Regions from separate parts of the Homo sapiens genome. Here all the other regions are linked to region 3. Evidence: fine-mapped expression QTL. A gene starts in region 3. Each other region holds a variant in brackets. All regions are shown on one strand. Distances are between the middles of the regions.

The links.
Region 1: its variant is fine-mapped to the expression of CREBL2 in adrenal gland (GTEx, PIP above 0.99).
Region 2: its variant is fine-mapped to the expression of CREBL2 in whole blood (TOPMed, PIP 0.96).

Annotation. Positions count from the first base shown.
Region 1 is chr12:12,583,385-12,587,625 of GRCh38, forward strand. LOC107984486 (a long non-coding RNA gene) reads right to left here and starts at 3,574. Exons shown (of 3, transcript XR_001749010.1): 1 at 2,917-3,574. RefSeq lists enhancers at 59-118, 1,673-2,174. The variant A/G (reference allele first, on the strand shown) is at 2,168.
Region 2 is chr12:12,658,937-12,663,177 of GRCh38, forward strand. GPR19 (G protein-coupled receptor 19) reads right to left here. Exons shown (of 4, transcript NM_006143.3): 4 at 1,954-3,534. The coding sequence starts at 3,512. The coding sequence ends at 2,265. Among named protein-coding and RNA genes, the nearest start is that of GPR19, 35 kb to the right of the region's middle. The variant A/G (reference allele first, on the strand shown) is at 1,948.
Region 3 is chr12:12,610,326-12,614,566 of GRCh38, forward strand. CREBL2 (cAMP responsive element binding protein like 2) reads left to right here and starts at 1,551. Exons shown (of 4, transcript NM_001310.4): 1 at 1,551-1,862. The coding sequence starts at 1,848. RefSeq lists enhancers at 920-1,671, 1,265-1,344, 1,395-1,444 and a silencer at 1,605-1,904.

The sequences.
Region 1 (4,241 bases), 27 kb before region 3:
GGCCCAGAGGCGAAAGGACCTTGTCCAATGCAGCAGGAACTTCTTATTCCCAAACCCTCTGCCCACCCTCATAGGCCAGTCTTTTGATAAGAGGCTGTAGACCTGAAAAATTATTCTAGAATGTTGGATCTAATAGATTTAATAGTCACTATATATTTACTGCATGTTCTGAAACAAGGCTGGATTGAGGACTGTTTTCATTTGAGCTGAAGACACAAAATGAATATACAGGAAACAGCAGCTAAGTGTACCTGACAGATTAATGGCATCAAGTGCTAAGCCAAGGGTAATTGGTTCAGAAAAATGAGACACTGATAAGTACAGAAGTAATGAGGGAAAGTGTCACCAAGCCAACGTTTAGGAGAGACCTTAAAAAATGGAAAGAATCTGGATTGGCAGGAAAGAGAAATTATGACATTCTAGAAATGATATAGTACCTACTATTTCATGTGATGAATTATAAATTATAATAGGAAACCATTATCAAAGGCAAGAAAAGTGAAAGATATATTCATGGAAAACCAAAGCAGTCAGCCTGTCTGGAGGAAGGGTGGCATAAGAATGTACATAGCAAAAATTAATGGGAAGTTAAGATCATCTGAATAAGATGAATTCATCAACATACTTAGGCTGGGCACGGTGGCTCATGCCTATAATCCCAGCACTTTGGGAGGCTGAAGTGGGTGGATCGCTTGAGCCCAAAAATTCAAGACTAGCCTGAGAAACACAGTGAGACCCTTTCTCTACAAAAATACAAAACAATTTAGCGGGGTGTGAAGGTGTGCGCCTATAGTCCCAGGGAGTATAGTACTTGGGAGGCTGAGGTGGAAGGACAGCTTGATCCTGGGAGGTCGAGGCTGCAAGTGAGCTATGATCACTGCACACCAGTGTCGGTGACAGAGTGAGACACTGTCTCACACAAACAAACTTACCAAACATATATCAAGTGCTGATTACACTAGGTCTCTTGCTGCATAATTATAATAGTTTACACCTATTAAAGCTTACAATGTGCCTTGCACTGTGTTAAAGTGCTTTACATATATTATCTCATTTAATTGTCACGACAGACCTATGAGGTATATGTTACCTCATAGGTAATGTATCCATTTTACAGATGAAACTGATGAAACCCAGAGAGGCTAAGGAACTTGCTTCAGGTCACATAGTTACTGAGTGGGAAAGCCTAGTATTGAACCAAGTAAGTCAGCCCAAACACGGGTTCCGAGCACAATGCTAAACTGTCTCCACAGATATTACTACAATCTCATAAACTTCCCTATGACATAGGTATTATCACCCCAGTTTTGCAAATGGGGATTCAAGGTTTCGAGAGTCAGTGAATTGCCCAAGGTCATTCTGCTGAGTACGGGGCTAGGATTTGAAAGCAGATCCACTAACTCCAAGTCCATTAAACTTCCCATTACAATATAGCCACCTGGCAGAAATATTGTCTAGTATGAGATCAGATTAGAGGAAATTTTGACAGCAAAGAAGAGCAAGAAGTCTATATGAATAGGGAAGAACTTCAGGGTTTTGAATAGACATGATTTGATTAATGAAGGTAGTCTAGGTCTGGCCTCAGTCTTTCACAGGTAATTGAATCAGGGAAAGGGTAGACATGAACAGTAGATGATATTAGAGGAAGTAAGGACCTAGAAATGGGCATAGGAGAGAGGGAATGACAGAAACAAGATCAATATTTGAAGGAAAACCTGATTGTTCTAGGGGCTGAACAGCTGAGAGTGATGAAAGAGGAGATCAAATCAAAGAGGAATTTGCTTCTCTATATCTAAATAACTTCATGGACTATTGACAGGGACTGACAGTTTATATGAGCAGCTGATTTGTGGCAAAAAAAAAAAAAAAAAAAGAAGAAGGTTGTTTTTGGACATGTTGCAATCTGCTTGGCAGAACAATGACCTGCACATTCCAGAGGAAATGGCCAGTAGGCAGTCAGGGAAATGGGATTGGAGCTCAGGTAGAGAGCAGAAGCTGTCAATAGTATCTGACAAATAAGCTCTGCAAGGACCACTGAAGGGGCAGACAAGTCACATCCCAAGAAAAATAGGGTTTTTTTTTAATAATCAGAATGCGCCAGGAGTCAGCAGAGAACCAAAATGCACTATAATGAAAGAGATCAGGCCCAAGGGCAAGCCACAGGTCA[A/G]GATAAGTGGTTAGGGACAATGCAGAGATAAAAATTAAAGGGATGCAGCAGCAAATCTGATCTCATCAGTATCAAGGATAAATGACCACAGAATAATTTCCTGTCCTGTTTCTGGTATTTTGGGGTATTCCCCTATTGCAGGAGCCAAATCCACTTAACTGGATGACGCCCTCAGAATGACCCTGCAGAACAACCAGGAATCTTCCTAGCAGGGAGTACACAGTCTACATCAGCACAGGGAGAGAATGAAAGTTATCAAAAAGGGCCTCTCCACTGAATTGTACATGTAAAAATGGCTAAAATGGTAAATGACATTTATGTAGATTTTACCAAAATTTAAAAGGGAGTCTATCTCTTGAAAAGATAAACATCTACGGATTCCCCCAAAATCTCCAAAAGTTCACCTAATTACCATCTCCTGGACTTCCCCTGTTTGTTAAAGATCTTGATTTCCTTGCTTAAGTTGGTGGCTATGGTGCTAAAGGGATGAAGATACTTAAGAAACCATGGAGGCTGCAGCTACCTGGTGCCCTTGTCCCTTCCAGTCTGGGAAGGGAATGGGATAGTTGGTTGTGGTCAGTTTGCTGTGGAAACTCCTCTTCTGGCCTTTCTGCTCCCTCTGTCCTTTTTTCAGAACTTTGAGAACATGACACATTGGCCAATGCTCCACCCTCTGTGACCTCTTCTGCTTGACACAATTAAGAAAATGAGCCATAGAGCAACTCAGCCAACACCTGGAAGGGACTTACCTGAGACAGGAACCTGAGAGTCCTGTAACTTCAGTTCTTGCTCACTGCCCTGTGCATATGGCCTTAGAATCCTAGGATCCTCTTTCTGACTTTACAGAGATCACCTCCAAGCCTATATCGAATTCCTTTCCTGATCAATATATAATGTGTTCTTAGTTCAGGGGGCCTTCACAAACCAGGGCAACCCAAAGGTGCTCAGCTCCTACGCTCTTGGAAGTAGCAAGGTGGGGCTCCTCTTCATCTTGTAAGTAAGGAAACAGTGGCCCAGGATCAGTTCAATGGCTTGCCCACGGGCATATACCTGGCTAATTGCAGAAGGGGAAGGAGATGCAGGCCTTCTGATCCACTCTCCAAATCTCTGTTAGTTAGACAAAGAGATCCCAGCTGAAATATTTGGAATGCTATTTTTACTGAAGCTTTGCTTTCCCCCAGATTTAGTCTCTTTTACTGCCTTTTTCTCAAAACATATTTAAACTGCTTGGAAATGCCAATTAGGGGTCTAAAATAGAATGATAACTGCACCGATCAATTGGGGAAGCTCACTGGTTACCCACAAAACCATCACAGACCGCCTATTATGCTGTGGCTAAAACTCGGATCCATGCCTTCCCGCAGCCTCATATGGCAGAGCACCCCAGTCCCTCCTGTCGTTGCCCCATGTTGGCCTTGATGTCTGCCTCTGAAATCCTTGATTACCAACGTCAACAGGCAATTGGCCAGCTTAGGAGGGGCCTTCCAAGGCTATGGCAAGATAGAAGAATGACAGTACAGCTCATCATAAACGTATTTATCAGGCAAACTTCAGGAAAAACTGGTTTCTCAGGCTTGCCACCTGAAGCAAAATAGTTCTGGGTGAAGCTTGACATGGTGTATATCTGTGGGTCAGGTCAGCACACACACAGAAAAAGAATCTTTTTTGTTTTCTCTTTGGAGATTATCCAAACTATAAAGTTAACCAGAGAAATGAATTATCTGTTTTAGTCAAGCCTATATTTCTTTCCAATGGTCATTTTCTGGAAATGCAGGAATTCAAGTTTAGAACTTCTAAGTGATAGAGTCATATACTCATAAAATAGTAGCACTGTATGGGACCCGGAAATTGTCTAATCTAGCGTCTAATTTTGCAGATAAGAAAGCTGAAGTTTCCCATTATTAAATGAATATTGTACTTCCATGCAGGCAGAGATTGCACTCATTTCTTTACAAGCTGAAATTACACTGTTGGCTCCCATGGCACTGGCAGCCAGCCTAAATAAAACCCATAATATTTTTCATATAAACTGCTCAGCTAGATTTTCCGCATTCCAGGTTTATACATAAATTTC
Region 2 (4,241 bases), 49 kb after region 3:
CTAAGTGAGGTAAATATCTGGCACATTTTGCTGTTTTAGAGCCATTTGCTGATGGGATAAGAATGTGAGGAGGATGGGAAAAGGGAGAAAGAAAAATATGATATATTATTTCTCTCTTTGGAATCTGCAATTGAACAAAGCATCTCAACTTAAAAACATCAGCTCTGTAAATGTTTTGTAGATTAAATATTTTGTTATTCTTTGTTCCAAATATCAAAACGTAATCTTGTCTCATTCCCCTGTGTCTGGGAGGTAGGAAGGCACAGGTTTCCCTCCTTATTGCAAACATTCCGCAGCACAAGTCCAAGAACCTAGCTACAGCCAAGGAACAGGTGAAGGCCAGCTCATTACATTTCAACTAGACCCTTTTTAAGAATCACCAGTGAACCTTAAATTCAGCTGATTTTTTAAAATTGAAAATAAAAAAGAGGCCAGGTGCGGTGGTTCGTGCCTGTAATCCCAGCACTTTGGGAGGCCAAGGCAGGCGGATCTCCTAAGGTCAGGAGTTCGAGACCAGCCTGGCCAACATGGTGAAACCCCCGTCTCTATTAAAAATACAAAAATTAGCTTGGCATGGTGGCGGGCACCTGTAATCCCAGCTACTTGGGAGGCTGAGGCGGGAGAATCACTTGAACTCGGGAGGCAGAGGTTGCAGTGAGCCGAGATCACGCCATTGCACTCCAGCCTGGACAACAGAGTGAGACTCTGTCTCAAAAAAAAAAAAAAAAAAAAATTAAAAAAAGAAAAAAGAATGGCCACATTCTCTTAGACCTTTGACTTCCACCAAGGCAGTGGTCAGGAGGCCCCTTCAGGGCCTGGATGGGTTTGGCGCCTCGTGTCGTCTAGGGAGACATCTGAAATGTCAAGGAAAGAGCAACAGACAGACATGCGGTTAGAGGCTCGAGTTTGAATACCAGCTCTGTCACATTCCAACTTGGGCAGGTCACATAACTATTGAGTTCCAGTTTGCTCATCTATAAAAGGGATGATAATAAATATATCACAGAATTATTGAGAGGATAAAGGAGATAATGCATGTAGAATTGCTGAACAACTGGAGTTATTATTTGCAGCTCTTGTTAACTAGGGCGTGAAAATGCATACCAGTCTTGTCTGTAAACCCTTTATTGTTTAAATAAAAACATTTTTTAAATGTGCTGGCTGGTCCTCGATTTGAAATAATGGAGATCTGGGAACCAGAGGAAAAAAATTCCCTAGTTATCACAGGCAAAGAAGAGTTTGAGGTTGGCCAGGGTATGGTGCTGTGCTCTGGAGAGAGATGAGGGAGAACAGGCTCTGGCTAGAGAAATGGCCTCCAGTTTCTACAAGAATGAGGAAGACAGTCCTTGCCCTTGCTGTCCTGGTGTATAGGGTAGTGCTGCGCAGCTGAAAGTCTCGGCTTGAATTGCAGAGCACAGAGAAATGCCATCTGTCATTTCTGTCTTTGGCATTTTTTAGATATGCTAGCAACAGCACCTGCTCATTTACTTGTATATAACTCAAAAATGGGAGGTGAATGTCCTAGACACAGCCTAGATGGGACACAGGTGTGAGGAAAACATTGCATTAACTTTGCATTTTTCAAGGCTTCATCAGCTGCTTAGATTAAGGAAGGATAAAAACAAGAGAAAGAGCAAGAGAAATTAAGCAACTCGTATGCTTTCTTCCCCTAAGAATCCTGATTAAAATCCAACCACAGAAGACTTGCCAGCAAGTTCCAATATATGGCGTGCTTTCCATAGCAGATCTGGCTAGTGGTTACTTGGAGGAAGGTAACGTGACAACCTATACAATATTAACTCATCCTAAATGTTGCTTAGTGAAAGAAATATAAATCTCTGAGATAGGTGACACGGGGATTTCATTTGGAACTGAAGCCCATAGTTATAAAAATTCAGTAAGGAGGAGAAAAAGAAAACAAAATAAAACTAGATTGAATCATTAATC[A/G]AAGACTGTGTGTATGGCTTAGGTTTATGTTTTTGAACCAACAGTAAATAGTAAGAAAGCATTTTCTTTTTTATGCATGTAACTAATATATTAATAGTAAAAGGACTGTTGGCTAAAGTTCAAAGTGAACGCTTTTCCTAAAACATAAAAAGCAAGTAAAATAAAACCCACAAAAACTACAGTAAACAAATGAATGCATTTTACAAAATAAAACATTTCCCTTGGAAAGTTGAGTGAAAACAAATATGTAAATAGCTTCTGTTTTTATAGTTAAAGCTTTTTAATCTCTGGTGCATAACAATTGAAAGAATGAGAACTTAGACAAAAGTATTTGGTGGATTTGAGTTAATGGGCCAAGCAAGCTTTTTTTCCTTGGCTTCTCTGTCAAATGAGTCATAGATCGAGTCTTTGGTAATAGTTTTGGCCATGGAAGGGATTTCTGAAATGCCAACGTAGTTTTTTTTGGCCATCCTTGAACTTGTTGTGATAGTATAGGCATTGCTTCGGTAACATTTCATAGAGGACATGCAAAAAGTCTCTTTCATCCCTCTCCGAAAATTGGCATTATAAATTGAATACAGAGTAGGTTTAGAGGCTGAAGAACTAAAGGATATCCATGTGATAGCTGTGAAAACAAGGGAACTTTTCTTATAGTCTTGTTCATGGGGGTGCCATAGCTGAGCTACATGAAAAGGCAGCCAGGAGAGCAAAAACAACAGATTTAAAATGAGGAACATCTTGATAGTTTTCACTTTTGTCCGAGGGACAATGTTCATTGTCCTCCTCACCGTTCGGCCATCTGTGCCTATTCTCCAAATATATTTTATGACCTTTTGGTAAAATAAAATTATGAGGACAGATGGAATCACAAAGCCCACCAAGAAGTGGATGACAGTGTAGGCAGTGCCTTCCCAAGAGGAGGGGAGGAAATAGTTACAATGACTGTCCCAGTTGGAGCCATAGAAAAAGAGCACAGGGGTCACAAAGCCTGCATCAAAGACCCACGATGCCGCAATCATTTTCTTGGCTTTTTCTCTGGACACCTTGAAGCTCAGAGGATAGACGATGGTGTAGAACCGGTCTATGCAGATGGAGAGGAGAACGTAGATCTGGACACCTGGAGTGAGATATTGAAAATATCGCACAACCTTGCACGTTGCACTACCCAGCGTCCACCTTCCAGTGGTGAACTGGAGCAGGACGAAAGGCGTGCTGGCAACGCTGATGAGAAGGTCAGCACATGCCATGGAGACCACAAAGTAGTTGGTGGTAGACTGAGTCCTCCTACTCCTATGGATGACCAAACAAACCAGGGAATTGCCGAAGATAGAAAACAACCACAGAATCCCAAAGAAGATGCTGGCTGTGGCCACTTCCCCGGGTTTCAGCACATAGTGAAGGTCTGTTTGGTTGCTCATCCAACTGTGCTCCTCACTTAATTCCATCAGGTATTGGCTTGGCAGAGGTGTGGCTGTTTCAGTGCAGCTGCGGTTTTGGAGGGGCACCAGAAGTGTAGGAATAATCAAATGTGGCTTGCTGTTATCCATTCTGTGAGCAAAAACCATATTCACTTTTTTTCTCTTAATTCTGGTTGGGGAAAAGAAGAATGAGGCCTCCTGTTAAAAAGGTGTCATACAGATTGGTTATGATTACTCAGGCTAACGATCTTATTTGACATTTACATTGATTGTCATTTGTCTTTGTGTAGGACTTGAGCGTTGGCAGGAAAACATAACTACTATCCAGAAAAAATTCTGGCCCCAACTTTGTTTTCATTTTAGGAGCTGTTTCAGCAGATCTCAGCTCAGGCTCTCTCTGGCCTCACCTTCTCTTGACCCTTAGTCATACCGAGCTCCCCTCCTACACATATCCTTGTTCCCTTCACTCATCAGGGATCACAGAATATTAGGGATCTCAAATCTGGCTCATGGTAACGGTGTTACCACCAACTGAAGATCTGCTGGAATTCTGGGCAAGTATGTGAGAAGTTCCTAATTGTCCTAAGGTTGCAAAAGAGGAAAGCTTGGGCAGATGAAAACACACAGATTTTGACTATGGAAGTAGCTAACAGCAGTCTGTGAATGTAGACAGGCTAGCTACTGGGAAGGGTGCTGTCCTTACTTAGTGTAGATTTTCCATCACAGAAGGATTATGGTAACACATGGAGCAGTCAACACTGCTACATGAGCCAGAAATAGCTCCTAATTTAATGACATCTGAAAATAGCTTGCTTTTTCTAAAAGACGATACAGTTCATGCACTAATAGCTTGCCACCTACCAGTGACATATATTT
Region 3 (4,241 bases):
TGGGATTACAGGCGTGAGCCACCATGCCCGGCTGAATTTTAGATCATTTTCATCACCTCAAAAAGAAACCCAGTACTCATTAACCGTCACTCTCCTTTCCAGGATCCCTCCATCCCTGCCATTCTTCAACCCTAGCCCTTGGCAACCACTAATGGATTTTTTGGTCTATTTAGATGTGCCTGTTCCAGACACTTCATTATAAATGGAATCATACAATATGTGGCCTATTGTGTCTGGCTTTTTTCACTTCACATAAAGTTTTCAAGGTTCAGACATATTGAAGTGTGTATATCCCTTCATTTTTTTTCATTGCTGAATAATATTTCTTTCCTTTTTTTTTGAGACAGAGTCTTGCTCTGTTGCCCAGGCTGGAGTGCCGTGATCACAGCTCACTTCAGCCTCCAACTCCAGGGCTCAAACGATCCTCCCACCTGGGCCTCCCGAGTGGCTAGGACTACAAGCACCACCACCACACCCAAGTAATTTTTAAATTTTTTGTAACACACCCAACTAATTTTTAATTTTTTTTGTAGAGACTGCATCTTACTATATGGGTCTTCTTCCTTCTTCTTTCTTCTTCCTTCTTCTCCTTCTTCTTCCTTCATCGTTCTTCTTCCTTCTTTCATTCTTCTTCTTCTTTTTTTTTTTTTTAAATACAGTGTCTGGCTCTGTCGCCCAGGCTGGAGTGCAGTGGTACAATCTTGGCTTATTGCAGCCTCTGCCTCCCAGGCCCAAGTGATCCTCTCATGTCAGCCTCCCCAGTAACTGGGATTACAGGCATGTGCCACCACACTCGACTAATTTTTGTATTTTTTTGTAGAGACAGGTTTTGCTATGTTGCCCAGGCTGGTCTCGAACTCTTGGGCTAAAGCAATCCTCCCGCCTCGGCCTCCCAACGTGCTGGGATTACAGGCGTGACCCACCACCCCTGGCCAGTATTTCTTAATTTGTATAGTCCACACTGGTTTATCCATTCATCCAGTAAAGGACATTTGCGTTGTTTCCACTTTTTGACTATTATGAATAATGCTGCTAGGAAAGAACATTTATATACAAGTTTTTGTGTAGTCACTCGTTTTAATTTCTCTTGGGTATGGGAGTGGCCAATATTCTGAAGAACTGCCAAATTTCTTCCCAAAGTAGCTGCACTATTTTACATACTTAGTTTTTGTTTTTCGTTTTTTTTTAAATAAAGAACCTTTAGGGTTTCCTCAGCGTCCCAGAGGAGGGCCTGCTTCCGGCACCCCGCCTTCAGGGCTGCCTCCGCAGAGCACCAAACTCCCGTCCCCGCCATTCCAGGCCCTGGCACTTAGGAGCCAAAACCTCAGGTCAGGCGCACTTTGGGCCTCCAGCCCAGCCCCGCCTCCTCAGCGCTAGCTAGTAGGCAAAAGGAAAACAGCTGCCCCTTAATGAGGCTATGTGGACATCGTAGTTTTTTTTCCAGTCAGTAGCGCAGAGACTGTGATAAGAAAAATCACAATTCCCAGAATGCCGCGGTGCTACGGCAGCCGAAGGGGCCATTCCGTGTGCAGCGCTCCCGCCCACCCTCCGGTCTCGGCGGCTCTCCAGAGCGTCTGTAAACACCCAGAGACTGTCATGGAGGGGGAGGAGGAGGCGGCGGCGGCGAAGGGAGGCGTTTGGGGCCGCCTCCAGGGTCCGCTCTGCCATTCCTGAACTGGTCCCTCGTCCCCGTGACTCTGGCATCAGGGAAGCGAACTGTTAGGCGAGAGGAGGAGGCAGCCAGAACCATATCCCCTTCTTCCTCGGGGCGGGGGCCGGGCCAGGCCGGCTGAGCCGGGGGAGGGCTCCGGGAGGGAGTGCCTGGCCAGGCCGGCCTGTCTGCCGCGATGGATGACAGTAAGGTAAGTCTTGTGGTTTGCACGCGCCGCCGCCTTCTTGTCGCTCAATGCTAGTCCCGCGGCTGAACCTCCGCTATGTAGTCCACGCCAACACCCAAGAGACACCTGCCTAAAACATCCCTGCGCCTCTCCAGTCCACTGCCCGATGGTACCCAGCCAGGAAATCAGGGAACACCGGGGCTGCGTTTTTCCAGGAAGGGCCCTCTCTGGAAATTTTTCACTCCCAGGGCGTTTGCTAGCTTTCCAGGTAGTGCAACCCCTAGTCCTTAACTTGCCTGTCGAGATAAGAAACTACTGTACTTTTTCTTCTTGCACTTTTTTGCTGCCTCCTCTCTCCAGTTTGGAGACTTTAGTGCACGCTGAACCAGCCTTATTCCCCTTGACGATTCCCCTTCTCTCAGGCTCCCTTACTCAATGCCCCATTCATATAATCAGTTCACTCCCCCTCTGAGCTATTTCCTGTGGTTGGTTGGAACACCGCTAAGCTCCTGTTGCTATTTGGCCAGTGTGGAGTTTAACCTCCACTAGAAAGCCTTCTCTAAAAAAATACTGATTTTCCTCTTGTTAACTTTAATAGCCCATCACCATCCAATTTCCCTGTCCAAATCACTTACTTTATGATTATAAAATAATAGATAATGTTCATTATTGGTTAATCCAAATAGTTTATCTATGTATAGCCTTTTTGTCTTTATTTATTAATTGAGACGGAGTTTCGCTCTTGTCGCCCAGGCTGGAGTGCAATGGCGCGATCTCGGCTCACCACAACCTCCGCCTCCCGGGTTCAAGCGATTCTCCTGCCTCAGCCTCCCGAGCAGCTGGGATTACAGGCATGCACCACCATGCCCGGCTAATTTTGTATTTTTGGTAGAGATGGGGTTTCTCCATGTTGGTCAGGCTGGTCTCGAACTCCCAATCTTAGGTGTCCGCTCGCCTCGGCCTCCCAAAGTGCTGGGATTACAGGCGTGAGCCACCGCGCCTGGCCGCCTTTCTCTCTTTACATCTACCCACATTAGTGTTGTTTAGTTTTATTTCCTGAAGATAGGGATGGTCAAAGATTTGTTTATTGATGTTTCAGGTTGTTTTGGATTTGGACTTTTTTATTTTAAGGAATCAGACTTCTAAAATTTGCCAGTTTTTAAAGTAAAAACCGTCCTTCTTTGTGCTTCTCAGCGTCTTCTGTTTCACAGTCTTTGGCATACTCTTTACGATAGCTTTGTCCTTTGTTTGGGTGTCTTTTTTTGCTGCTGCTGCAGTTTTTGTTTCACATATCCTCAGAGAGATTCAAAAAATTTCCAACTTCTCTGTGTTCCTTGTTTTATTCTTTCCTTCTTGTTTTCTCTTCCTCTTCATGTAGAAGGCTGTGAGGAAGTGACAGATGGAAGGGAAAGCCCAGTGCAGTACTCTGGAATTGTTACTCACCTAGAGGAACGGATTGCTTGTGAAGTAGTAAACCCCTCTTAATAGGAAGTGGTATTTCCAAGACAGAAGGGGGGCGAGTTTCAGGAAGCTATCAGCTCATAAGAGTGCTTAATATGCTCAGTACACACATTAATTCCCTTGACAAGAATCTTGCCCTTGTTTGTTTACAACAATGCAACAGAATGCGGGATAACATTGTAGACTCTTCAGTTTTACTATAGTAACATTCGTGGGGTATGATATTGGGGAAGTGGTATTTCCAAGACAGAAGGGTAGCGTTCTAAAAGTTTTCCAGAAAAATCAGCAAGTAATTTTTTTTTTTTTTTGCTTTGAATATTTCTTTGGGGAGGGGACATCACACTTCTTTCTTTTTTCTTTTTTTTCTTTTTTTTTTTTTTTTTTTTGAGACGGAGTCTCCGCTGTATCGCCCAGGCTGGAGTACAGTGGCACGATCTCGGCTCACTGCCGAGAATTGCTCTTGGGTTCAAGCAATTCTCCTGCCTCAGCCTCCTGAGTAGCTGGGACTACAGGCGTGTGCCACCACATCCAGCTAAATTTTTATTTTTCGTAGAGACAGGGTTTCACCATGTTGATCAGGCTGGTCTCAAACTCGAGTGACCTCAGGTGATCCGCCCACCTCAGCCTCCCAAAGTGCTAGGAATACAGGTGTGAGCCACTGCGCCCGGCCAGGACATCACACTTCTACTCAATGAAGATAAACGTTTTTACACCTTTTGTCTTTTTTACCCCTATTATGCCACGAATTCATAGGGAATAAGTTCTAGTAGCTCAGGCTGTTTTCCACTGGTGGAGTAGGCTGGTGCTTCAATTGAACCCAGGTACCTTTCTTATTTAGTTTCCTTTTTTTTTTTTTTTTTTGAAATAGGGTCTTGCACTGTTGCCCAGGCTGGGGTGCGTTGGTGTGATCACAACTCACTGCAGCCTCGAACTCCTGGGCTC